Linked DNA regions of Homo sapiens. The protein of the gene in region 1 purifies or fractionates together with the protein of each later gene. This does not show direct contact. Each region holds a gene or a part of one and is shown in the gene's direction. Other genes may lie near its edges.

Region 1 (3,500 bases):
GTAGAAAATGGTCAAGTGTTCAGAAGATGGCCTTTCATTATATATCTTTAGTTCTTTCTGGCAGATTTGGTTATACTGTCTTAATCTATCAGGTTGGGTAAGTAGCCCAGGGTGTCTTCTCCATTCTTTCTGTATGCCTTATCTCAGCATTACCATCTTCCTAGGCTTCAGGATAGGAACTCGGTCATCTTTGACTTCTTTTCTTCAAAGTCAGTAAGTTATCAAGTCCTCCTGATTCTACCTTTCTGTGAATGGTTTCCTGAATTCATCCCCTGCTGCTTCAGTCAGACCCTCACAATCCTCTGCCTTTAGCCATCTGTTTGGTTTCTACTTTGTCTCTTCTCACCTTCTCACCTAAAAAAAAAAAAAACTATAGGGCTGGGCTCAGTGGCTCACACCTGTAATCCCAGCACTTTGGGAGGCCAAGACGGGTGGATCACCAGAGGTCAGGAGTTCGAGACCAGCCTGGCTAACGTGGTGAAACCCCGTCTCTACTAAAAATATAAAATTAGCTGGGTGTGGTCATGCGCGCCTGTAACCCCAGCCACTTGGGAGTCTGAAGCAGGAGAATCGCTTGGACCGGGGAGGCAGATTTTGCAGTGAGCCGAGATTGCACCATTGCACTTCAGCCTGGGCAACAGAGCACGACTCTGTCTCAAAAAAAAAAAAAAAAAAAAAAGTAACAAAACTTTGTTTTCCATGATAGCACAGAGATATTTTTCTGAAACCTGGATTTGGCCTTGTTTTGTTAATACCTTCCTTTTAAACTCCTGGCTCCCTACTGTTTATGAGGAAAAGTCTGTTAGATTTTTATTTCCTCAGATACATATCAATTTTAAGCCTAAATTAGGCCTAGAATAGTCTTCCCTTCCTCTGCTAGCTGACCTCTTTTTTTAAAATGCCAGAGGGGTAATGGGCCAACATCTGTAACAAGGTTCGAGGGTGGCACATCTCACACATGCACATGAACACCCAGTCCTCAGGTTCATGAACTACAAAAGGATCCATCTGAACCCTTTTTTTTTTTTTTTTGAGACGGAGTCTCGCTCTGTCTCCCAGGCTGGATGGAGTGCAGTGGCGCGATCTTGGCTCACTGCAAGCTCTGCGTCCTGGGTTCATGCCATTCTCCTGCCTAAGCCTCCCGAGTAGCTGGGACTACAGGCACCCGCCACCACTCCCAGCTAATTTTTGTATTTTTAGTAGAGACGGGGTTTCACTGTGTTAGCCAGGATGGTCTCGATCTCCTGACCTTGTGATCTGCCCGCCTCGGCCTCCCAAAGTGCTGGGATTACAGGCATGAGCCACCGCGCCTGGCTGAGCTGAACCCTTTTAAGGCTGATCAGAGATGCCGTCTCTGCAGTCTTCCCCTCCACCCCCCCCTTGAGACAGAGTCGCACTCTGTTGCCCAGGCTGGAGTGTGCAGCCACCTCTGCCTCCCAGGTTCAAGCAATTCTCCTGCCTCAGCCTCCCGAGTAGCTGGGATTACAGGCATCTGCCACCATGCCTGGCTAATTTTGGTATTTTTAGTAGAGACGGGTTTCACCATGTTGGTAAGGCTGGTCTCAAACTCCTGACCTCGTGATCTGCCTGCCTTGGCCTCCCAAAGTGCTGGGATTACGGGCGTGAGCCACCGCTCCCAGCCTTCACTGCAGTCTTACCAGCCCTTTCCTTCTCAGGTCACTAGTTGATTTTCCCTTTATGTTCCTGTAGCGCTTTGCCTTCACCTGTAATGATAGCAGCTCCCGTTTGTGGTGCGTTTTGTAAGGGCTGGACACTCTGCCAGGGGTCTGCTATACAAACTGTATCCTCCCAGCAGTCCTAGAGGTAGGTACTACTCTCTCCATTTCACAAAGGAAAAAATGGAGATTCAAGAAACCCCACTGAGATCCTTCAGTGGCAGGGCCTAAGGCTTGAAGCCTCAACCTTAACACCTTCACTGTGTCTATCACAGGAGTTTGCATTTGTTTCTGTAGTTGTGTGTTCTTTGTAGTCCACTCCTATCCCTCATTTTTTCTGGCTTGGAAGGACTTAGTATTTGAACTGGGAGGAGAGAGCAAGTTGTTTTTTACTCCATTATCCATTGATGTCTTTTTAAAAGTTGATCCATATTTGTCGTCTTGTCTCCATGATGCGTGACAGAGGTTCTCTGTATGTCTTGTTCTAGCTTTTGCTCTGCATGCCTGCAGGAATGTCTGAAGCCGAAGAAGCCTGTCTGTGGGGTGTGTCGCAGCGCTCTGGCACCTGGCGTCCGAGCCGTGGAGCTCGAGCGGCAGATCGAGAGCACAGAGACTTCTTGCCATGGCTGCCGTAAGAATGTATGTGGAAGTGATGTGGAAGAGTCCATGTCTTTCCATGATAAGTTGGGGTAAAACGTACAGCTGCCATGTTGTTGCTGAAGTTAGAGCATGACTAGGTCACTAACAGCACGCGTGCATGCCAATTACCTGTGGTGATGGCTGGGCTGGTTTGTTTTCATAACCTTACTGGTTTTTGTTTCTTTTTTTAAGAGTTGGTTAAGTATATATTTTAGGTTTGAAAGCCATAGAAATCAGTTATCCCAGTTTTTTCCTATAAAAGATCAATTATGGCCAGGCGCGGTGGCTCATTCCTGTAACCCCAGCTCTTTGGGAGTCCGAGGCAAGAGCTTGAGGCTAGGAGTTAAGAGACCAGCCTGGACAACATAGTGAGACCTCATCTTTACAAAAAAATAAAATTAGCCGGGTGTGGTGGTATGTACCTGTAGGCCCAGCTACTCAGGAGGCAGAGGCCAGAGGATCACTTGAGCCCAGGAGTTTGGGATTACAGTGATCTATGATCATGCCACTGCACTCCAGCCTGGCTGACAGCAAGACCCTGTCTCTTAAAAAAAAGTCAATATGAAATCATTGGATTGTAATAACAATAGCTAACATTTGAAATGCATCCATGCTCTTGTATAATCAGAGTCAAGTATATTTATTTTCATACCTGTTATAACTGCTACTGGAAAGGAGAAATACTGTTGTCTTATTTTCCAAGAGATATACACAGCCTTGTTGATTTTAGAATCATTAAAATTTTTAAAATTGCAGACCATACAAAAGTACACAATAATGTAGGCTTGTTCCTCATTCCAGAGATTACTTCAAAATTCGTTCAACTTAAGGCCTGGCAAGGTGGTTCATGCCTGTAATCCCAACACTTTGGGAGGCCAAGGTGGGTGGATTGCTTGAGTCCAGGAGTTCTAGACCAGCCTGGACAACATGGTGAAACCTCGGCTCTACTGAAAATACAAAAAACTAGCAGGGCATGGTGGTGTGTGCCCGTAGTCTCAACTGTTCGGGAGGCTGAGGTGAGAGGATGGCTTGAGCCCAGGAGGCAGAGGTTGCAGTGAGCTGAGTTCGTGCCACTGCACTCCATCCTGGGTGATAGAGCCGGACCCTGTCTCAAGGAAAAAAAAAGTGATTTAATTTCGAAAGCTGCATAACATTTTCTGCCCTTTGACAAACACTGTAGAATTT
Region 2 (3,500 bases), on another chromosome or scaffold:
CAACTTCTACCCTGCCAGCTATAAAGTACTATGGAGTTATTTAAATTTTGCACCAAAGGACAGGGGGCTTTTGAATCCGAGATGAATACTATATAAGCTGATTTAATTTGAGGCGTTGTGTCTATCTGAAGGCTAGATGCTCGGAATGTCACTTTGCTTCCTTTTAAGGTCACCTTTCTTTTTCACCCCTTCCCCCACCAGTCCACAGAGAACCTGAAATCACTTGGCCAATAATATTCTAGAAAAAGTCTAAGTTGTGAGGAGACTATTGGTAGAAACTGTATTATACGAAATCCAATTGTTCTTTATGAAACCCAAATAGGATTCCTCAGACCCTTGGCACTAAAGAAAAAATATATACCCTGAGACTTTTCCAAAACCTTAAATTTGAAAATCCTACTAGCATGTGATTACGATGCCCCCCTAAAACACAGTATATTATTATATTTTTAGGAGAGTCACTACTTACCATAAACTGAAAAATTTTAAGAATTAACATAGACATGAAGCCTCAAAGTAAATCAACGTATTACTATTCATCTTGGATTCTCAAACCCCCTGCCCTTTGATGCGAAATGTAATAAATACATCATATTAATACTTTGTAGTTGGCAGGGTAGAAGCCAGCTTGAAAGGCAGATGCTGGCCAGACAGCTAGGCTCACTCGCTAGCGAAATGACTCGCATCTGCGAATTTAAAAGTCATGATACGTCATCCACCTTCAGGATTACTTGTGAATGTTTGCAACACTGGATATTAATTAAATCCTTAAATGCTGGATATCTATTGCACATATCCGAACAATTTGTGGTGACACTAAAGGAATTTTTGTTTCTTCAGGTATGGCTATCCTGATCCTTCTTACCTGAAACGTGTCAAAGAGGAGCTGAAAGCCAAAGGAATTGAGTAAGACAACTGCTGGAAGATGTCTTAAATCAAGCTTTCAAAAAAATATATTTTAGGAGGCTGATTTAATGCCAGTCTAAATCCTTATGTAGAAAGGACTTTGAAATTTTTCTTCTCAAGAAATGGTTTGTATAAGAATAACAATCTGCTAGTCTGTCATTTCTGGAGTGATACTTTTTTTTTTGAGACGGAGTCTGCTCTGTCGCTCGCGCTGGAGTGCAGTGGCATGATCTCGGCTCACTGCAAGCTCCGCCTCCCAGGTTCATGCCATTCTCCTACCTCAGCCTCCCGAGTAGCTGGGACTACAGGCGCCCACCACCATGCCCGGCTAATTTTTGTTTTTGTATTTTTAGTAGAGACAGGGTTTCACTGTGTTAGCCAGGATGGTCTCGATCTCCTGACCTCGTGATCCGCCCGCCTCAGCCTTCCAAAGTGTTGGGATTATAGGCGTGAGCCACCGCGCCCAGCCCTGGAGTGATACTTTTTATGGAAGACAAAAGCCCCCCAAATCTGTGTAAAATCTGCTGCAAAGGTGTCATCCCTCTTGTGTCATCACTGGGGTTAGAGGTGGGTCCGAAATAATCTTCTGTGTCCTTCAGTTGGACTCTCGGCTGCCAATTGATCTCTTTTTCATTGCCATCTCTGGGGTGGTTCTTTGGTTTTTTGTGTGTTTTCCCCTTCATCTCTACCTGTGAAAGTGAAATTCTATTGTAAATGGGAGGAAAAAGGGTTGGTTGTGAAAAATTAAAGACCCACATTCTGCTTTCTTACTCATGGTAAGAAAAGTGGCCATGAGTAGAGATTGGGCAAGCATTGGTAATAAATGGAATAAGACTATTATTATTATTATTTGAGATGGAGTCTCACTCTGTCACCCAGGCTGGAATGCAGTGGTGTGATCTTGGCTCACTGCAACCTCCACTTCCCGGGTTCAAGCGATTCTCCTGCCTCAGCCTCCTGAGTAGCTGGGATTACAGGTGTGTGCCTCCACACCCGGCTAATTTTTTGTATTTTTAGTAGAGACGGGGTTTTGCCATGTTGGCCAGGCTGGTTTCAAACTCCTGAGCTCAAATGATCCTCCTGCCTTGGCCTCCCAAAGTGCTGGAATTACAGGCATGAGCCACCACACCCACACAAGACTATCATTTTTAATGACCAAGAGCCTAGTATATAGTTGGTGCCTGTCTTAGTCTGTTTGTGTTGCTATAAAAGAACACCTGAGACTGGGTAATTGATAAAGAAAAAGGTTTGTTTGGCTCACAATTTTGCTGGCTAGAAGGTTGGGCATCCGGTGAAAGCCTCAGGCTGCTTCCATTCATAGCAAAGGGCAGCCAGTGTGTGCAGAAATCAAATGACAGAGAGGAAGTGAGAGAGAGAGGTGTCGGGGAGGTGCCAGGCTCTTTTTAACAAGCAGTTCTTCAGGAACTAAGAGTGAGTCACTCCCATGAGAACAGCACCAAGCCATTCATGGGGGAATCTGCCCCCATGACCCAGACCCCTCCCGTTAGGCTTCACCTCCAACACTGAGGATCAAATTTCAACATGAGATTTGGAGGAGGTCAAACAAACTAAACTGTAGCAGTGTTTCATAAAATTGTTTGCCTGACTCAGGTTGCTAGTAAGCCAGCAGAGGGATATTTGCCTCCTAAATCTTTGGCAGAGGCAGGAGTAAGGAAGCCATTTCTGGAGTCCTTGCTACTAATTTGGAAAACTGAGCTTCTTTCTTTCATTGCTTTTTCCCTTAAGAGACAAGTCCTTACTATATTGCCCTGTCTCTCAAGGGAAGACATCAAGACTGGACTTGAACTCCTGGGCTCAAGCCATCCCCCAACCTTGGCCTCTCGAGTAGATGGGATTATAGGCATGTGCCACGGTGCCTGACTTGAGTTTCTTATTCTAGAACACTTGGAGCCTGAACTCTGACCAGGCCCCTCACTTGAGCCTTTGCTTTCTGCTCCTTGTAAACTGCCATATTGGGTGCACTTGCCCTGCCACAGTAATGCTATATATTTCTGAGCATTGTTTTTCTCTAGATAATTTTATATTTTTGAGTATACCCCACTTCCAAGTGTTTTTTGTTTTGTTTTGCTTTGTTTTTGTTGTTGTTGTTTTGAGACAGGGTCTCACTGTGTCCCCCAGGCTGGAGTGCAGTGGCACAATGACGACTCACTGCAGCCTCAACCTCCTGGGGCCAAGTGATCCTCCCACCTCAGCCTCTCAAGTGGCTGGGACCACAGAAGTGCACCACCATGCCTGGCTTTTTTTTTTTTTTTTGGTCGAGATGGGGTGTCCCTGTGTTGCCCAGACTGGTCTTGAACTCCTGGACTCAAGGGATCCTCCTGTCTTGGGCTCCCAAAGTGTTGGGATTACAGGCGTGAGTGACCATGCCTAGCTCACTTCCAGGTTTAACAGACAAAATAAACTTACTCTAGTTTCCATCTCTATCATTTTATAATAACCGTAGCCCACATTGTAGTAGTTTTTCAGCTCTTTACTAAGTCCCACCAATTCATGTTTTCACCCTTAAAATCTTTCTCACTGATACTCTCTCTGGACAGAAAAAAGGTGAAATAAGCCTACTATAAGGAATATAT
Region 3 (3,500 bases), on another chromosome or scaffold:
GTGGTTGGGCTTGGGGCTGTGATCCTGGCCCGCTCCCGGGCGCAACTTCAGCTCCGTGCAGGGCTGCAGAGAGGTCAGCAGATGGACCCCGACCGAGCCTTCATCTGTGGAGAGAGCCGCCAGTTTGCCCAGTGCCTTATCTTTGGGTTTCTGTTCTTGACAAGCGGCATGCTCATCAGCGTCCTGGGCATTTGGGTCCCTGGATGTGGCTCCAACTGGGCGCAGGAACCGCTAAACGAGACAGACACTGGCGACTCAGAGCCCCGGATGTGTGGGTTCCTTTCTCTGCAGATCATGGGGCCCTTGATTGTGCTTGTGGGATTGTGTTTCTTCGTGGTTGCCCATGTTAAGAAGAGAAACACGCTGAATGCTGGCCAGGATGCCTCTGAGAGAGAAGAGGGACAGATCCAGATTATGGAGCCTGTCCAGGTCACTGTAGGTGGGTTGCTGTTATTTGCGTTCTTGCTTCTATCACAGTGGCTTTGCAGCAGGGTTTCACCAGCTGCTCTTGGTTCTCGTCTGGATTCTCTTTCTCAATTCTTCCATCTCTCACACATGTGTGTGCACACGCACACACCCCCATCATGTGTACATACACAATGGTGCTGCTGTGGGAAGCCCCGTAGGAACCTTGTATACATCTTTTCCCCCCCAGCAACTCTTTCCTACTTTGCAAAGCATTGGGATATTAAGTAGTGACCTTGACTGAGGTCACAGAGCAAATTAAGAGGAAAGTGAGAAGAACCATGAGGACAGCCTTGGAGCCTTCTGCCACCTTAGGGACTCACTAAGTGACCCTGTTACCCCTGTTATTCTCACACCAAAACCACATAGCATTTTAGTTGTGGGACACTTGGTTTCTCCTCCCAGGCTGTCACTAGCTGGCTGTCCTTGTAAGTCCTTAACCTCTCCTGCCTTGGTTTATGTCTCTATAAAATGAGCAGTGCCTCTCTAAGATTCCTGCAGCACTAACATTCTAGGATTCTGGATCTGTCTGAGTCCAGCAGTCTCCAGGTGTTTTGAGGGGCCTCTGCACTGTCTCTGTGTTGTCCTTCTTTTTTTGTGACATCATCCGTGGCTGCAGGGCTGAGGCAAAGCTTGGAAGCAGCGGGATGAACCAAGATGGAATATGACAGCACCTTTCTCCCGTGGAATGCCTACAAGTTCCTTTTGGGTCCCCCGGGTTCTACAGAAGAGATGGAGTGCCATTTCCCAGAGCCTGCCCCCTCAGAACAATAGCAGTAGCGTTGGCCTCAGCTTCACACAACCAAGGAAAAACCCCATCGCTGTTCATTGGCAGATCACTTTTTTTCAGTCTCCTACTTTTGAAAGAGTAAAGTTGTGAAACCACTGACATTTAAAAGGCTAGGAAAAGAGATCTTCAGAACAGAAACCATGGAGAGGACAGAGAGGGAATGTGACAAGTGAGATGCATCTCCTGTTTGGGGCTGTCTACTGGAAGCAGTGGAATTCACTGACTGCAGCCTGGAGGGGAGGAACTGGGTTGCTGGACTTGCATGGCACCAGCCTTGGAGAGGAGGGGCAGATGGATCTGCAGCCATTCCTTGTGTAGAGCCAGGGTAGATGCTCCCAGCTTATTTATTAATATATTTATGCATTAATATATTTATGGTGACAACACAAATATTAGTTATATATTCACAATAGCTAACACTTATATAGGGTCTATTTTTGTGCCAAACACCCATTTAAGTGCTTTATCATGTGCTCTTAAAGGTCCCCTGTGTGAAATTCATTCACACCTACAGCAATCCAAGGGGGCAGATAACGTTAGTACCTCCATGTTACACAGGAAGAAGATGAGGCATGTAGATATCAAGTGACTTGCCTAAGGTCACACCCTAGCAAGTGGTAGAGCAAGGTTCCAACCCAAGTGTCTGGGCACACCCACAGAATAGCCCTTGCATAGCACCCTGCCCAGGGCACGTGGGTGTGATTCCATTTTATCCTTCACCAAGTGTTCCTGGAAGTTATTACATGAAAAAAGGGGCTCCCTTTAATTTGATAGATGTTCTTAGTGTTCTTGAGGAACACCGTGGGGTACAAGTAAATATGTTCATCCAACGCTGCTATGCTTTCATCTAGTTGGGAACGGTTCGAGGGGAGTTTTGGGGCCCAGCCTTCCACCTGGTAGCTGGAATCAGAGTGGACAGAGCTGTGGTGCTGCTCCTGGTGTCCTTGTCCTGAAGTTGGCACTGCATGGTTTAAAATCTTTTCTACTTAACTCTTTAAGTCCCCATCAAACCTATGAAAATCTTGCATCCTAATTCCTCTCCTTTGATATTGTGGAATAGGGTTTACATTTTTAGAATCCAAGAAGCATGCTCTCCTTGTTGTGGGTACACTCAGTGCTATCCTGGATACACAGCAGGTATATGAGACAGCTCTCCTTGGAGGGGTGTATATGTTGTCTGCTCACAGAGGACATCAAGTTCTGAAAGACGCATGAAAGGGAACTCGCAGAGGAGAGGCCTCTTTCCAGGGAGAGCAGGTTGCAGGGTGTGGGCAGGCGGAGCTGCTGGGCCAAAGGGCTGGAGACCCTTGGAGGTAACAGGGTTACTGGAGCATATCCTTGTGTGTTTTTGAGAGGTGATTGGCCTGCCCTCAAGGGTTACTTCACAGGTTCTTTATTCTACAGTGTGTAATGGAAGTGAACACAACCCCAATTCCTCTAACCTACCAAGACCTTCTAAAAAAGTAAATGAGAATCTCAGGACCGCTATTATGCTTTCTCACCTTTAGATTAGCAAAACGTATTTTAAACTCTCATTGCCTTCTCCTTGGAGAAGGAAGGGGAGATGGAATTAATGCATTTTCTGAAGGGCTAAATTCCCTCTGGGAAATGATTGAGGCTGCTGTGGCTCATGAAGGGTAGAGAGTGGAGCCAGTGGCCAATTGCCTCTGTGGTGTTTCTTCATCATGCAAATCAGTGCCCTCGGCTGGTGTTGAGCTGAGAGAGTTGGCTCTGTGCTCCGCACTGTGTTCACTGCCAGATGCAAATCAGTCCATCTAGTCCTTCCTTCTATCTGTCCTGTGATGCAAGAACTGCCTGGCCTGCAGTTTACAGCTGTGGCGGCTGAGGTCAAGGAGGTCGCCTAGCTTGTTCAGGTTGGAACCCCCATCACTTTAAAGAATCCTATGCCACCCTAAGCAAGCATCAGACATGCTAGGAGTGTGAACCACTACAGGGAAGTAAAGCCCCATCTTCTTCATTTTTTCTGAACTGTTATTGCTATTGCCAGCTTCTCAGAGGCTTTCACCAGGCCCCCAGCAGTGGTGCTGCCAGAGCTCTACACTGTTCTGGTCCACTTGTGTGGTGCATTTTATATTGGAATCGGAATACAAATTAGAGTTTGCATCTGGTCCCTAGTTTCTCCTCAAAACATGAGGATGTATTCTGGAGTGAACAGTAGCCACAGAAATGCAAAAACCAAACTTCTTTGGGTTCAACCTTCATCTGTATGGGTGAAATTTTGGTA
Region 4 (2,831 bases), 6.1 Mb from region 1:
TTCTTTTCAGTGAGCCTTGCATCTTAGAGACAAGAACACACATTTGGTTATAAATCTCGATGTACCTGGATGCTCCAATTACAGTGTAGAGTCAACATCCAGTTTTATATGTAGCCAACACTAATCAGCTATTTTCATTATTGCTAATGAATTATGCTACTTGTATCTGAATCAGGAAGTCACCACTAAGCACCTCAAATTATTTTAATTGTGCTTGAAAAATTTCTTTGTAAAGCCTCTGCTGGGGATTATTGCACAGCTGGTGACTTGTTGAAAGACCATCTATCATCAGGTTACAAAAAAAATCTGATGCTTACTTGGAAGAAGGCGAAATCTCAGAATGAAATTATACACGTACATGTGTTTTAAGTTAGGTGTTGAGCCTGATACATCTGCTTGACTGTCACTACATTCTGGTATGTTGCCCAGAGGTAATAGTACATTTTTAGGGAATTATGCAAGAGGCTTGCAAGTGTGTTAATATTGGCAAGAATGCAGTGTTCGAAAGAGATAGTAGCAGATTGCCATTGATATATGAGAAGTATATCTTTTTAGGGACCTCTTATTATTTTTGAATGCCACTTACAGGTGTATTTCTTGGAAAGAAATGGAACAAACCCTGGTTATTTTAACATCCATCCTCCATCCCAATCCCTCTTTCTCATAGAAAGAGACTTACCCATGTGACATTGCAAATTTAGCTTAAGAGGTCACTTATTAAAATTTAGAGTTAATTTTATAACCAATAGAACTAGGCTGAATATTTTGGAATACAAAATGCATTGTTGCTTTCTTGGGAAACAGTATCTAATTTCACTTTTGAACCTTGAACTTCAAATAAAGAGCAGGTGATTGATAGGAGGTTAATGGACAGCCCGGGGAGGAACAGGGAAAGCCACCTATTTCATAGTTTAGCCTTCTCTATGCTCTCCTCTTTGGCAGCCCACAAGGGCTGACTCATTGCCACATTATTATAATTAAGGCCTAGCTGGCACAGGAATGAAAAAAAAAATGGTAACAGATCTTAGGAGAGGGGTGGTGGTGGCTCAGAGAAGGGCCAGGCATTCAGATCACTTTGTGCACCAACTGTTCAGTGTCAAGGATTATGTCACATGGTGGAGGGGGTACCCATGCCTCTGTGGTTTGTCCAGGGATGCTGCGGAGAGCTCACAGATGCTGATTGGCTGGCTTGGAAACGTCACCTCTGGACATTGCAAAGGCTTGTAGAAGGTGGGAATGTAAACACATAGCGGGTGCCTTTTATCCAACTCTCAAGGTAAAGCTAATATTTATAAGTTCTCAAATGTTAGCTCGATGTTTCCAGAGCCATTGGGCCTTGCTGGAAATTGAGACATGAATACAAAGCAGTTACTTTATTTATTCTTATATCATTTAAAAGACAGAAGAACCTTCCAGTATTCCAGTCAATTTTCCAAATCAGTTAAGAGGAAAGATACAGAACTAGATGTTTTATTTTCTATGATTTCTTAAGCTAGTTGCCAAGAATGAATGAATGAACAAAAGAAAAAAGAAAAGAAAGAAAGAGGAAGGAAGGAATGAAGGAAGGAGGGAAAGAAGGAAGAGGAGAGGAAGAGAGTGAGAGGAAGAAAATTCATTTTAGTTACAGAAGAAAATATAATAACTTATTGTTATTTATTATTTTTATTTGTAGATCCTGGTGAATGTGGGTAATTTTTTCACATTGGAGTCTGTCTTTGTAGCACCAAGAAAAGGAATTTACAGTTTCAGTTTTCACGTGATTAAAGTCTACCAGAGCCAAACTATCCAGGTGTGTGTTTTGACCTCTTCCATCCATACTCTCAACCAACTGTGCTTATCTTTAGTGGGTTATATATTTAAGTACTTATCCAAAGTTGTGTTTCCACAATAGAAATAAGCAGCCATCTTTATCATTTATTTTAAAACACTTAATTTCTAATTTTTTTCTCTTTAACATCCATTAAGACGTGACAAAAAGCGTATAGAAAAATAGAGAATTGAAGTTATTACCTTAATAACAATCAAACATTTTTTAAAAATCCATGGTTGAGTAAAAATTCAGTGACACAAATCTCTTTGTAAGATCATGCTTTCATTTAATGCATGTACAAGAATTACTTGAACTCATAAGAAAAAAACTTGTAAGACTAGTACAGCTTTACAAGTGCATACTAAATAAATAAAACACATTTGCTATTTTTTAAAATTATGAGATACAGCTAATCAGTAAGAATAAGTCTATGAAGGAGGAACTATTCAAAATACATTTTTAAAAAACGGTGTTCTATGCGTATGCTTGTGTTTATCCTCAGTTACTCTGATGCTAGTGAATTCTTACCAACTGCAGTTCCACAGTTAATATATTTTGTGTTCTGCTTTCTAAGACAATGGGCTTGACCTTACATTCAAAAGCAACAGTGGAGCTTGTTCCAACAATATTCCAGTATGCTAATACTAAATGACACAAATACATGTGCATGGAATTCTAAGATAACCTTTTATCTTATGCTCAGTATTTATGTTATACATTATGTCAATATGAATGATAGATTACATGCTTATCTATTAATACTTTTACATGTCCTAGTAAATGGATAAATGGATCAGCCTCAGATTTAATTTATTCCATATGACTTTTAACCTAAAAAAATCTAGAAAACAAACTTACTTCCATGGAAAAGTTTTCCCAACCCCCAATATTTAGAAATGTATGCAATGCTTGACACAGTGTAATCAAAATTGAAGAATAGAAAATAGTTAATACAGTTTTGAGTTGATTCTAATTATCTGTCACTGAAATCTCTAAAATTTAAAATCTAAATCTAAAATCA
Region 5 (3,500 bases), on another chromosome or scaffold:
ATAGTGTTTCTGATTTAATAAATCTGGGATTAGGTCCAGGGATCAGTAACTAGTATAAGCCCACCAGGTGATTCTAATGTATAGCTGATTAAGAATGACCGCTGTAATCTTTCAGTTTCCTCTTCTGCAAAATGAAGATAGTAATAACATTTGAGAACTAAATGATATAATAAATGAAAAATTTAAGTTGTGCCTGGAAAATGGCAAGAGCTCCACTGCTTTTAAATAGTATTATCCTACGGTGCTTGTGAAGATTTTTTAAAAGGATTTTATTTTCTCATATTCAGTTGACAGAATTGGAATTAAAATTACTGTAATTCTTAATCATAGATCACCAGACCATGCAGTTTAGTCAAGGCTGTGCTGTTTTTTCTCCCAGAAATCTGGAAAATACTATCAGTTCACTATTTTTATCAGTATACCATTCTGCAAAGATGAAATGTGATTGCAAAAGTGCTGCCAAAGTAATTGAATGAAGAAAATTACATATTTGAATCTTCTACTTCAAAAATGAAAAACTGAAGTTTCCCGTTGGCTTTTAAAATGTTATGTCTGTCTAACAGGAAAAGACAATCAGCATCAAGGTTCTTACAGTGAGGGGGCTCAGATGAATGGCATTCAGCCAGAAGAAATTGGTAGATTGCGAGAAGAGATAGAAGAATTAAAACGTAATCAGGAACTTTTACAAAGCCAGCTGACTGAAAAGGACTCTATGATTGAAAATATGGTAAAGTAAATGTTTAAGAAGTTAAAATAAGAGTTCAAGAGTGGTTCTCATTATCCTGCCTTTTTTTTTTTTCCTTGGATCTCTTAAGCCAGAATATCATATGTTAAGATTTTACAGGATGGGCCAGGCACAGTGGCTTACGCCTGTAATCCTAGCACTTTGGGAGGCTGAGGTGGGCGGATCACCTGAGGTCAGGAGTTCAAGACTAGCCTGGCCAATATGGCGAAACCCTGTCTCTACTAAAAATACAAAAATTAGCCGGGCATGGTGGCAGGCACCTGTAGTCCCAGCTACGCAGGAGGCTGAGGCAGGAGAATCTCTTAAACCCAGGAGGTAGAGGTTGCAGTGAGCCGAGATCACCCCACTTCACCTCATTGCCTGTGCGACAGAGGGAGACTTTCCATCTAAAAAAAAAAAAAAAAAGATTTTACAGGATGAGCTTTAGAGTCAAACTGTTTAAACTTCAATGCTTCCTGGCTCATTGAATTTAAGCAATTTAGTTAACCTCTTTAAACTTGTTTCCTGATCTATAAAATGGTAGTGGTAATGTCTAGTTCATTGTTGTGAGATTTAATTTACTCTTCTAATAGATGGAAATTATTTAATAAATGTTTGCTTTTATGCTCTTTCTCCATATGAACGCAGGTAAATGCTTAGATTTAATAAATTGCTCGGTAAAATAAAAATTTTATTTTTTTTTCTTTAGAGACAGAGTCTCGCTCTGTTAGCCCAGTCTGGAGCGCAGTGGCACAATCTCGGCTCACTGCAACCTCCACCTCCCAGGTTCTAGCAGTTCTCCTGCCTCAGCCTCCCGAGTAGCTGGGATTATAGGTGCACGCTGCCACGTCCGGCTAATTTTTTGTATTTTAGTAGAGATAGGGTTTCACCGTGTTGCCCAAGCTGATCTTGCATTCCTGAGCTCAAGCAATCCACTGGCCTTGGCCTCCCAAGGATTACAGGCATGAGCCACCGCACCCAGCCTACAAATGGATTTTTAGCCATGAAAAAGTTGTAGACAATATGTGCTGTGTTGGAATTTTATCTTGGGCATAAAAATTAAAAGGTTGGTGTGAATTTTTTGGTAAGCACATATGATATAGTTTATATGTGTACAGTTCTGTTTTTTTTTCTCATCTCTTTAGACTGAATATATTTTATAGTTTATTTTTGTGCTATTTGCAGAAATCTTCCCAAACATCTGGCACAAATGAACAGTCTTCAGCAATAGTTTCAGCTAGAGATTCTGAACAAGTTGCAGAATTAAAACAGGTAATTTTCCACTTTGATCCAATTCTACTTTGTCATGTTTTAATTATAATAGAATAACAGCCCTATAGTTTCACAAATCTAGAACTATATTAGCAGATGTAAGTAAAATTTAAGTTAAGACAGCCATTTGAAAATCCAGAAGCTGTTTCTATTTATATGGTAATAGTACTTTGCTTTTTATTGTGTTTTTATTTTTCAGAGGTATTCCTTTTAAAAAATCTCAGCATCTCACCCATGTTATTTATAGATTATCAGTGAACTAACAAGGAAAAATTTAAATTTATAACTTGCAAATATGAAAATGTAAAATCTTATGCCTAATTTTAATATACTATGATAATTGCTTGACTAAATGTATGGGGTTTTTAAACTGTTTTGTCTAGAAAATATAGAATTTTAGAATTGGAAAAGAGAAGAAAGGTAAACTTACCTATATCTCAATTAAATGACTCCAGCTAAAAAGCAAAATAAACTTTTTCTGTGGTAATTTATAACATCTAGAAAAGCAAGTTAAACTTTTTTCTACTTGCTTATAGTATTTATAAATTCCTGTTAAACTAGATCATACAGATTTACCTTTATCCAATGAAAAAATTTAAATGTATTGTTCAAGAAAAGAATCAAAAGAGAGAAATGAACTCTGTATACTTACAATTAAATAATGTAGCAATTGGAAGAAAACTCTAGAGTATATTATCCCTAAACAGGTTCTGGGGTTGTTTTTCTTTCCTCCTCTCTTTTCTTCTCTCTCTTTTCTTCTTTCCCTCCTTTCTTTCTTATTATAAAAGAAATGCATACTTTTTTTTTTTTAATCCAAGCAATACTAAAAAATGACCATCCTCACTAACCTAGGACTAACTGTCTTCCTTCTCTCTCCACTAAGCAACTGGCCCTAGTCCACTGACATGGCTGCTTTGAAAGAGAAATGACTGAACATAGAGAAATTTTGTCTTATTTTGATAATGTCCATGTACCTCAGAGTAGATTCTAAATATCTGACCTCTTTTTAAAAAAAGAATCACTTATCATTTGAGGATTTTCAGGTCTCCAATATTTGTTCACAATGTTTTATTTGTGTGGGAAGATTAATATGCTCTTTTGGTTTTATTAAGTGTACCTATACTAGAACTGTATTAAAATTAAAGGGAATTAAGTTACTAATATATAGCCTTAGTTTGTAAATTCTAAGTAAAAATAAGCCATTTAATTATCTTTCCCAGTGAAACTTTAATTAGATATTTTTATAAAAAGAGAATTGCCTTTTAGTTTTTTTACTTTCTCCAGTTTATTTACTTTTATAAACTTTAGATTGTTAAAATATATGTATTTTTTAAGTGACAGTTTTGTTTTTTATAATATATAGTAAAGTACTATATATAGAAAACTGTAACTCATTTTAATAACTAAACAAAATAAATTAGAAAAGCCACAAATGTACATGATAGAAATTTTAAAGAGAACCAAAAGAAAAGAGCCTTTTACTTGCCATTGTCCCACCACTTAC
Region 6 (4,126 bases), on another chromosome or scaffold:
GGCACAAAGGAAGGACACAATGTGTGTCTGGCTGTCTTACTATTATTATTATTACTATTAGAGTTGTTGGATTATAATAGGTACGGTATTGTATATTAGTTTCTTCCTCAAAGCCTAATTCATAGACTTATTTATTATTTTTTAGATCTTTAAAAGAGTATCATTCTCCCATTCTTACTCTTCTGACTGCAAAAGAAACAAGTTTCAAACAGACCATTTATTCCTGAGTCTCAGAACTGATTTCCAGGGAAAACATTTCAGGCATAGCCTTTTGATTTTCTACGTAACTAAAAATTACATGCATAAAGGTGAACTTATGGAAAGACAAAAGAGCAAAACACATTAATCTTTTTATAGAATATTACCCATCACTGCTGCTGTGTTATTTTTGTTCTGTATTATCCGTGCCAAAGTCAGCGGAGTCATGCGTCCATCGTGCTTCTCTCCTCATATTCCCTGAGAGAACCGACAGATATGGCAAACATTTTTTTGATATTTTAAGAGACCCTACTTGCAAAACTATTTGGCCTAGAGCTTTAGTTGGTAGATGATATTTGGAATATGATAGGCAAGAAATTATACAGTTTTTTAGCTCTTCCAAACACATTGGTTTCCAAGGTCTTGCATTTATTTATCGATTTTCAGCTATCCTAAGAATTTATTCAGTAATTTTAGTCACAATGTTTATTATTTTTCTCTTCCATTTGCCACCTTTATTTTTTCTTTTTAAAATCTGGGATGATATATACAGCAAGTGAATTAAAAAGATGCCATCGAACGGCGCCGTGGCTCACACCTGTAATCCCAGCACTTTGGGAGGCCGAGGCGGGCGGATCACCTGAGGTCAGGAGATGGAGACCAGCCTGGCCAACATGGTGAAACCTCGTCTCTACTAAAAATACAAAAAAATTAGCTGGGCGTGATGGCGGGCGCCTGTAATCTCAGCTACTCGGGATGCTGAGGCAGGAGAATCGCCCGAACCCGGGAGGCAGAGGTTGCAGTCAGCCGAGATCACGCCACTGCACTCTGGCCTGGGCAACAGAGCTAGACATCACCTTAAAAAAAAAAAAAAAAAGAAAGCCATAGAGTAGAAAATAACTTACCCTAGGTTTAAAAACTAAAAGCATTTTTTAAAGTGAGATTGTGTCAAAACAATTTTCTATTATCCCTCAATTGAGAGGGAGAAAGATAGAGAGAAAGAGATGGAGAGATAGAGAGAGACCGGGGTGTGTTTTCTTGTTAAGAATACAAAAATATCAGATTGCCTTAGCTGATATCTTTCTACATCCCCAGGGTATAAAAGGGCCCTGGTTCAACTTGCACATTGAGTTCCACATCTGATACCCAGGAGTCTCCAGCTTCCAAGAGAGGTTAGTGCATATGTTTTACCTTGTGGGAATTCTTTCTTTTATGATCTAAATTTGTACATATTCAGTAATTGTTTTCTCTGCATTTCTATTGTATCTCATGTCCATGCATTAAGTCAAACAGCCTTTTGCAAAGAGGAGGAGCAGATTGCTGAAAATATTAACAGTAATGATAATGGACAGACGTGAATGCATTTTTTTAAAAAGTAGAAAAGGATGATGAGAAGGTTTTACATGAAGATAAATGACCCTGAAAACATTTTTTTTTTTTTTTTTTGAGACAGAGTCTCACTCTGTCTGCCCAGGCTGGAGAGCAATGGCACGATCTCGGCTCACTGCAACCTCTGCTTCCCAGGTTCAAGTGATTCTCCTGCCTCAGCCTCCTGAGTAGCTGGGAATACAGGCATGTGCCACCAGGCCTGGCTAATTTTTGTATTTTTTAGTAGAGAGAGGGTTCCACCATGTTGGCCAGGCTGGTCTCAAACTCTTGACCTCAAGTGATCCTCCCACCTCGGCCTCCCAAAGTACTGGGATTACAGACGTGAGCCACCGCTCCTGGCCCTGAAAACATTTTGTGAGAAGATCTTCACCTAAGAATCTGCTTGGCTCTGAAGAGGACCATAGCCCTTCTGTGGGTGACGTAGCTTTCCTACAAGGCTGTGTGTTTCTCCACGTCTGATCCAGGTCCAGTGGTTTTGCACAGGGCTGCACTTTTCCCCAAAAACTTGTACAAAGAGTGTTACCTACAGTTTACCTCGGTGTGTTTTGTGTGTGTGTGTGTGTGTGTGTGTGTGTGTGTGTGTGTGTGGTGGGGCGGGGATTCTTTAACTCGTCACTAAAGGAAACCTGGAAAACATGAGGAGTATGTATGTACCCAAGATTTCCCGTTCAGAGAGACACCACATTAGAAACAGATGATTCACCTTCCATATCTCAGAACTGTGCTGCTTCAACACAATTGCTGTCACTTGTAGAGAAGGTGTATGCTAAATCCTAATGTGGTTGGTAACACATAGCAAAAACGAGATGGCAATATCTTTCACATAAAGAGGCATTTGTGTGCATCTATTTCAGGTCGGGTCACAGCCAGCAGCTATGTCTGACATAAATCTTGACTGGGTTGACAGGCGTCAGTTGCAGCGCTTGGAGGAAATGCTGATTGTTGTGGATGAGAATGATAAGGTTATTGGTGCCGACACCAAGAGGAATTGCCATCTGAACGAAAACATTGAGAAAGGTAGCCCCCGCCCATTTTCTCTGTCCAGTTCCCAGGGTTTTCCCATTTTTCCCACCCGACGGCAACCTAAGAAGAGAGTCTAGGCCTTTCCGGCTAGGAGGCGACCACTGGGTCACCTGTGTGCTTGCTGTGCCGTCTTTAGAAGGCTCGGGGAGCAGCACCTGGATGACGTCTTTGCTTGGTCAAGCCCTTGTCAGGCTCCTGCACCTTCTCCTAGGCATCCGTGCTCTTCCTCGTAAGATCCTGTTTCAGCAAGAATTCTACCAGGTTGTTTTAGCGAGAACCCTGACCTTGGCATCTGATTAAATTCCTCAACCCCGTCCCTCCCAGGTGACGTCTGATCACGCAGGCCTGTCTTCAGCAGGTCTTGTTAGGTCGGTGTAGCCAGAACCCCCTTCCCACTGATGTTTTCTCTTAGTAACTTTTAATCCATAGGCCCCAGCCTGCTCCTTGGGTGTTGTGTGCAGTTAGGCTGGTTCTCCATGGAGGTCTCTTTCCCCTATTGAAATGGTTCTCAGTAAAGTCAGACTTTCCTGCTTTAACTCCTGTCCAGCTCTGGTTTTCTTTGACCATCTTAAGCCATTTTATTATTTTTTAATTTTCATTTTTGTGTCTTTTTTATAAACACATAATAATTATGCATATTAATGGGGTACATGTGATAGTTTGATACCACCATGTCATGCATAATGATCAAATAGGGCATTTTGGGATATCCATCACCTCAAACATTCATCATATCTTTGTGTTGGGAACATTCCAAATCCTCTGTTCTAGCCACATTGAAACATATAATACACTGTTGTTAACTACAGTCACCCTACTGTGCTATTGAACAGCTGATATTATTCCTTCTCTATCGCGGTATGTTTATACTTATTAACCACCCTCTCGTCATCCCTCCCCACTGCCCTTCGCAGCCTCTGGTGTCTAGCATTGTGTTTTCTGCCTCCATGAGATCAACTTCTTTAGAGCCCACATAGCAGTGAGAACATGTGATACTTGTTTTTCTGTGCCAGGTTTGTTCCACTTAACACAATGGCCTCCAGTTCCATCCATGTTGCTACAAATGACAGGATTTCATTCTTCTTTTTTTTTTTTTTTTTGAGACAGAGTCTTGCTCCATTGCCCAGGCTGGAGTGCAGTGGTGCAATCTCAGGTCACTGCCAGCTCTGCCTCCTGGGTTCATGCCATTCTCCTGCCTCAGCCTCCCGAGTAGCTTGGACTACAGGCACCTGCCACCACGCCCAGCTAATTTTTTTGTATTTTTAGTAGAGACGGGGTTTCACCATGTTAGCCAGGGTGGTCTCGATCTTCTGACCTCGTGATCCGCCCACTTCAGCCTCCCAAAGTGCTGAGATTACAGGCGTGAGCCACCGCACCCGGCCCGATTTCATTCTTCTTTTGTGGTGGAATGGTATGCCACTGTGTATCTAACCCTCATGTTTTCAACCCTTCAAACCTCCACGGACACAGGTTGATCTCATATCTTGGCTGTCGTAAATGGTGCTCAGCACCCAGG
Region 7 (3,500 bases), on another chromosome or scaffold:
TGGCTAATTTTTGTATTTTTAGTAGAGATGGGGTTTTGCCATGTTGGCCAGGCTGGTCTTGAACTCCTGACCTCAGGTGATCTGCCCGCCTTGGCCTCCCAAATTGCTGGGATTACAGGTGAGAGCCACCGCACCTGACCAAGATGGAGTCTCTTAGTGAGTTTCGGGGAGCCATTCCTTCTCCTGGAAGCTGCCCCAACTGCCTGAGGGTTAAGGTCATGTTGTCCCCCCACCCCCCACAGGGCTGTATCTGGGCTGGCTGTGGCTCCTCGGGGTCTCAGGGTTAGACAGCCTGGCTGGAGGGCTGGGACTGGGGCTGCACACATGGGTGTCATGCGTGTCCATGTGCTTCTGTGTACACTTTGATACATCCTGTTGCCTGCACACACGTCTCAGCCAAGCTCTGCACTTGCCTGCCTGTGTGCGTGTTAGCAAGCCGGGGACTATATCTCTGTGTGTGTTTGTGTATCTAAACATGCGTGTCCATTTGTGTTTGAGCAACTGAGCATGTGTTCATGTATGAGGGTGTTTGAATTTCTGCTCCTCTGTCACACATGCGTGTTGTGTGTTACATTCACACATGCTGGATTGAGCTGTGTGTGTGTGTGTGTGTGTGTGAATGGGCATAGTGGTCATTGCACAGTGGGGGCATTTGTCTGTGTTCTTTTTTCTGTGTATATGACTGTGCTGAGTGTGTCCAGGCCAGCCCAGAGCTCGGCCATCCTGCGGGGCAGGGGGCAGATGGAGGCTATTCACTGTGGCTGGCCTGGCTTATGCCAGAGCCTGCCCATCTTCTGGTGGGTTGTCCCATCCCTGCCCACCCCGCCCCATCACCAGACCTATCCCAGCCAGCAGGCCACTCGCCTGCCACCTCTGCTGGCTAAATTTGGGAGCTTGTGTTCAGTGGCTGTCTCAGGTTCCCAGTCACATGGGGGGCTGTATTTAACCTGGTTCCCAGCTCAGCCACCAGACCCTGTGGGACAGAGCAGGCCCCATACTCGTCTCTGTCCACTCTGCCCACTCATCCCCCACCATGTTTCTTGTTCTTATAGCCACGGAAGAGCTGAAGGAATTCTTTGCCAAGGCACGGGCTGGCTCTGTGCGGCTCATCAAGGTTGTGATTGAGGACGGTGAGTGCCCCTCACAGGCCAGGGTATAGGCTTGGGGGTGGACTCTGCTGCCTCTGTGGGTGGGGGAAGGAGGATGTTGGCCCCTGGCCTGCCGGGACCTCAATTTCCCACTCTGGAAATGGGTGTGAGGCCATCCTGACAAAGGAGAGCCTCACAGGGCAGCATCAGAGGTGGGCGCAATTGTCACCTCTGTTATGCAGAGCAGGAAGCCGAAGCTGGGGTCAGCAAATAGAGCCCTGTCCTGGGGTCCTGCCACCTCCCAGAGGCTGCATGGATATTCAGATGGGCCTGGCCAGGATGCCGAGCTGGGCTGGGCAGAGGGGCAGGGGATAAGTGAATCCAGCACTGCCCCTTGTGGCTGGTGCCACCCGCCTCATTTGTTGGTGGCCTGGCCTGGCTCAGCTGCTGTCCGAGGGGAGACCTAAGGAGATCCTGCACCCTTCTCTTGGAAGTGCCCCCATGATGGGGAGAAGGGATGAGTGTCTGGCTCATCTGAGAGTAGGATGGGAGGGTTCTAGGCTTGGCTGGGCTTTGGCCTTGCCCCTGAGGACCTGGGAGCTGTATAGAGGGCAGTGCTGGGGACACTGGGACTTGAGCTGAGGCCTGAAGTGGGGAGGGTTTGGGGAGGCAGAGGATTAAACTGAGGAGGATTGGGAGGTCAGAGGCCAGAGAACATTTTTTCACCTTTCCTCCATGCCAATGGACTGTCCCTTTGGGTGAGGGGTACAGACTTTGGGACTGGGGTGGGCCAGGCTCCCCAGAGGTCCTCCCAGCTCTTCTCATTAGCCATTCAGCAGCAGGCACTTTGGATGGCTGCCTGAATGGGCCTGGTGCTCAGCTGGCTTTCCACGCGTTGTGTTGGCTCAAAGCAGGATCTGCCATTCCAGGTTTTAGGGCCTTGGCAGTGCTTTGCCCAGGGAGTCCAAATTCTGATGCCCTCAGAGACTGGGCAGGGGTCACTGTGGCAGAATATTAGTGATGGCTTCCTGGAGTGGCAGGCCACAGCCACCCCACCCTTAAAAAGGCAGTTGTACTCATTGACCCCAGTCCTCGGCCCTCCCTGTTGCCTCCCAGACAAGATGTCCCTGCAGATTTTTTTTTTTTTTTTTTTTTTTGAGACGGAGTTTCGCTCTGTCACCCAGGCTGGAGTGTAGTGGTGTGATCTCAGCTTACTGCAAGCTCCGCCTCCCGGGTTCACGCCATTCTCCTGCCTCAGCCTCCCGAGTAGCTGGGACTACAGGCGACCACCACTGCGCCCGGCTAATTTTGTATTTTTAGTAGAGACGGGGTTTCACCATGGTCTCAATCTCCTGACTTCGTGATCCGCCCACCTCGGCCTCCCAAAGTGCTGGGATTACGGGCATAAGCCACCGTGCCCAGCCGTCCCTGAAGATTTTAAGCAGGAGGAATCTCTGGATTGACTTTTATCTCAGTTCTGCATGACAGTTGTTGGGGTACCTGGGACTGCCCAGGAGGGTCCAGGCCCCCGATGGGCAGCCACTGTCCATCTCCAATTGAGGATGGCTCCAGTGTGGCCAGAGGGCCTGATTTTTCTAGAGAGGCTGAGAATTCTACTTCTTATGTAAAATTTCCCAGTTTGAAAATGTTAGCAACAAATTAAGCAATGTTGACAGTGCTGTAGGGGCCAACACAGGCCGTGACTACTCAAAGTCACTGTGACTGTGATCCTGTCTGAGTTCTGGGTGGGCAGGTGAGGAGGCCGAGGCCTCAGAGGGCCTGGTCTGTTGGGGCGTCCAGGCATCGGGGCCCCTGCCCAGATCAGGAGAGTCTGGTGGACTGACACCAGGACCCCCAGCCAGGCTGACTGCCCCTTTGCCCCAGTTATTGCTCCAGGCTAGACCTGTGTATACCCAGGCTGGTGTCTGGTGCCCAGATGAGGTCCCAGTCTACAAGTGCAGCTGGATGCCCCATTTCAGCCAAGGAGCTAGCAGGCCTGTGGGGCCTAGGCACTTAGATGGTGGCTGCTTTGGATCTGCGACATTTTCTTTCTTTTTTTGAGACGGAGTTTCGCTCTTGTTGCCCAGGCTGGAGTGCAATGGCGCCATCTCCTGCTCACCACAACCTCCGCCTCCTGGGTTCAAGCGATTCTCCCACCTCAGCCTCCCGAGCAGCTGGGATTACAGGCCACTACACCCAGCTAATTTTGTATTTTTAGTAGAGACGGGGTTTCTCCATGTTGGTCAGGGTGGTCTCGAACTCCCAACCTCAGGCGATCCGCCTGCCTCTGCCTCCCAAAGTGCTGGGATTATAGGCGTGAGCCACCGCGCCCGGCAAGGATCTGTGACATTTTCGAGGGGACTGCAGCTGGCAGGTAGCCGCAGGATGTCTGTTTATCCAGGGTCTGGTAGG

The links.
Region 2: the proteins of RNF114 (region 1) and DTX3L purify together in Homo sapiens (affinity purification with mass spectrometry, with the first as the bait; one large-scale study listed by BioGRID). This does not show direct contact.
Region 3: the proteins of RNF114 (region 1) and TMEM171 purify together in Homo sapiens (co-immunoprecipitation; one large-scale study listed by IntAct). This does not show direct contact.
Region 4: the proteins of RNF114 (region 1) and CBLN4 purify together in Homo sapiens (co-immunoprecipitation; one large-scale study listed by IntAct). This does not show direct contact.
Region 5: the proteins of RNF114 (region 1) and USO1 purify together in Homo sapiens (affinity purification with mass spectrometry; 2 studies listed by BioGRID and IntAct, with this or other methods). This does not show direct contact.
Region 6: the proteins of RNF114 (region 1) and IDI2 purify together in Homo sapiens (affinity purification with mass spectrometry; 3 studies listed by BioGRID and IntAct, with this or other methods). This does not show direct contact.
Region 7: the proteins of RNF114 (region 1) and TWF2 purify together in Homo sapiens (co-immunoprecipitation; one large-scale study listed by IntAct). This does not show direct contact.

Annotation. Positions count from the first base shown.
Region 1 is NC_000020.11:49,939,397-49,942,896, forward strand, and holds part of RNF114 (E3 ubiquitin-protein ligase RNF114), read left to right. Parts: intron 1-899; exon of another isoform or gene 900-1,004; intron 1,005-2,164; coding exon 2,165-2,315; intron 2,316-3,500. UniProt on the Homo sapiens protein: E3 ubiquitin-protein ligase that promotes the ubiquitination of various substrates. In turn, participates in the regulation of many biological processes including cell cycle, apoptosis, osteoclastogenesis as well as innate or adaptive immunity.
Region 2 is NC_000003.12:122,570,838-122,574,337, forward strand, and holds part of DTX3L (E3 ubiquitin-protein ligase DTX3L), read left to right. Parts: intron 1-840; coding exon 841-910; 3' UTR 911-3,500.
Region 3 is NC_000005.10:73,123,575-73,127,074, forward strand, and holds part of TMEM171 (transmembrane protein 171), read left to right. Parts: coding exon 1-439; intron 440-3,500.
Region 4 is NC_000020.11:55,999,689-56,002,519, reverse strand, and holds part of CBLN4 (cerebellin-4 precursor), read left to right. Parts: intron 1-1,672; coding exon 1,673-1,789; intron 1,790-2,831. UniProt on the Homo sapiens protein: Acts as a synaptic organizer in specific subsets of neurons in the brain. Essential for the formation and maintenance of inhibitory GABAergic synapses.
Region 5 is NC_000004.12:75,804,577-75,808,076, forward strand, and holds part of USO1 (general vesicular transport factor p115), read left to right. Parts: intron 1-563; coding exon 564-727; intron 728-1,909; coding exon 1,910-1,996; intron 1,997-3,500. UniProt on the Homo sapiens protein: General vesicular transport factor required for intercisternal transport in the Golgi stack; it is required for transcytotic fusion and/or subsequent binding of the vesicles to the target membrane.
Region 6 is NC_000010.11:1,023,060-1,027,185, reverse strand, and holds the start of IDI2 (isopentenyl-diphosphate delta-isomerase 2), read left to right. Parts: upstream 1-1,326; 5' UTR 1,327-1,370; intron 1,371-2,441; 5' UTR 2,442-2,462; coding exon 2,463-2,604; intron 2,605-4,126. UniProt on the Homo sapiens protein: Catalyzes the 1,3-allylic rearrangement of the homoallylic substrate isopentenyl (IPP) to its highly electrophilic allylic isomer, dimethylallyl diphosphate (DMAPP).
Region 7 is NC_000003.12:52,232,659-52,236,158, reverse strand, and holds part of TWF2 (twinfilin-2), read left to right. Parts: intron 1-1,052; coding exon 1,053-1,130; intron 1,131-3,500. UniProt on the Homo sapiens protein: Actin-binding protein involved in motile and morphological processes. Inhibits actin polymerization, likely by sequestering G-actin. By capping the barbed ends of filaments, it also regulates motility.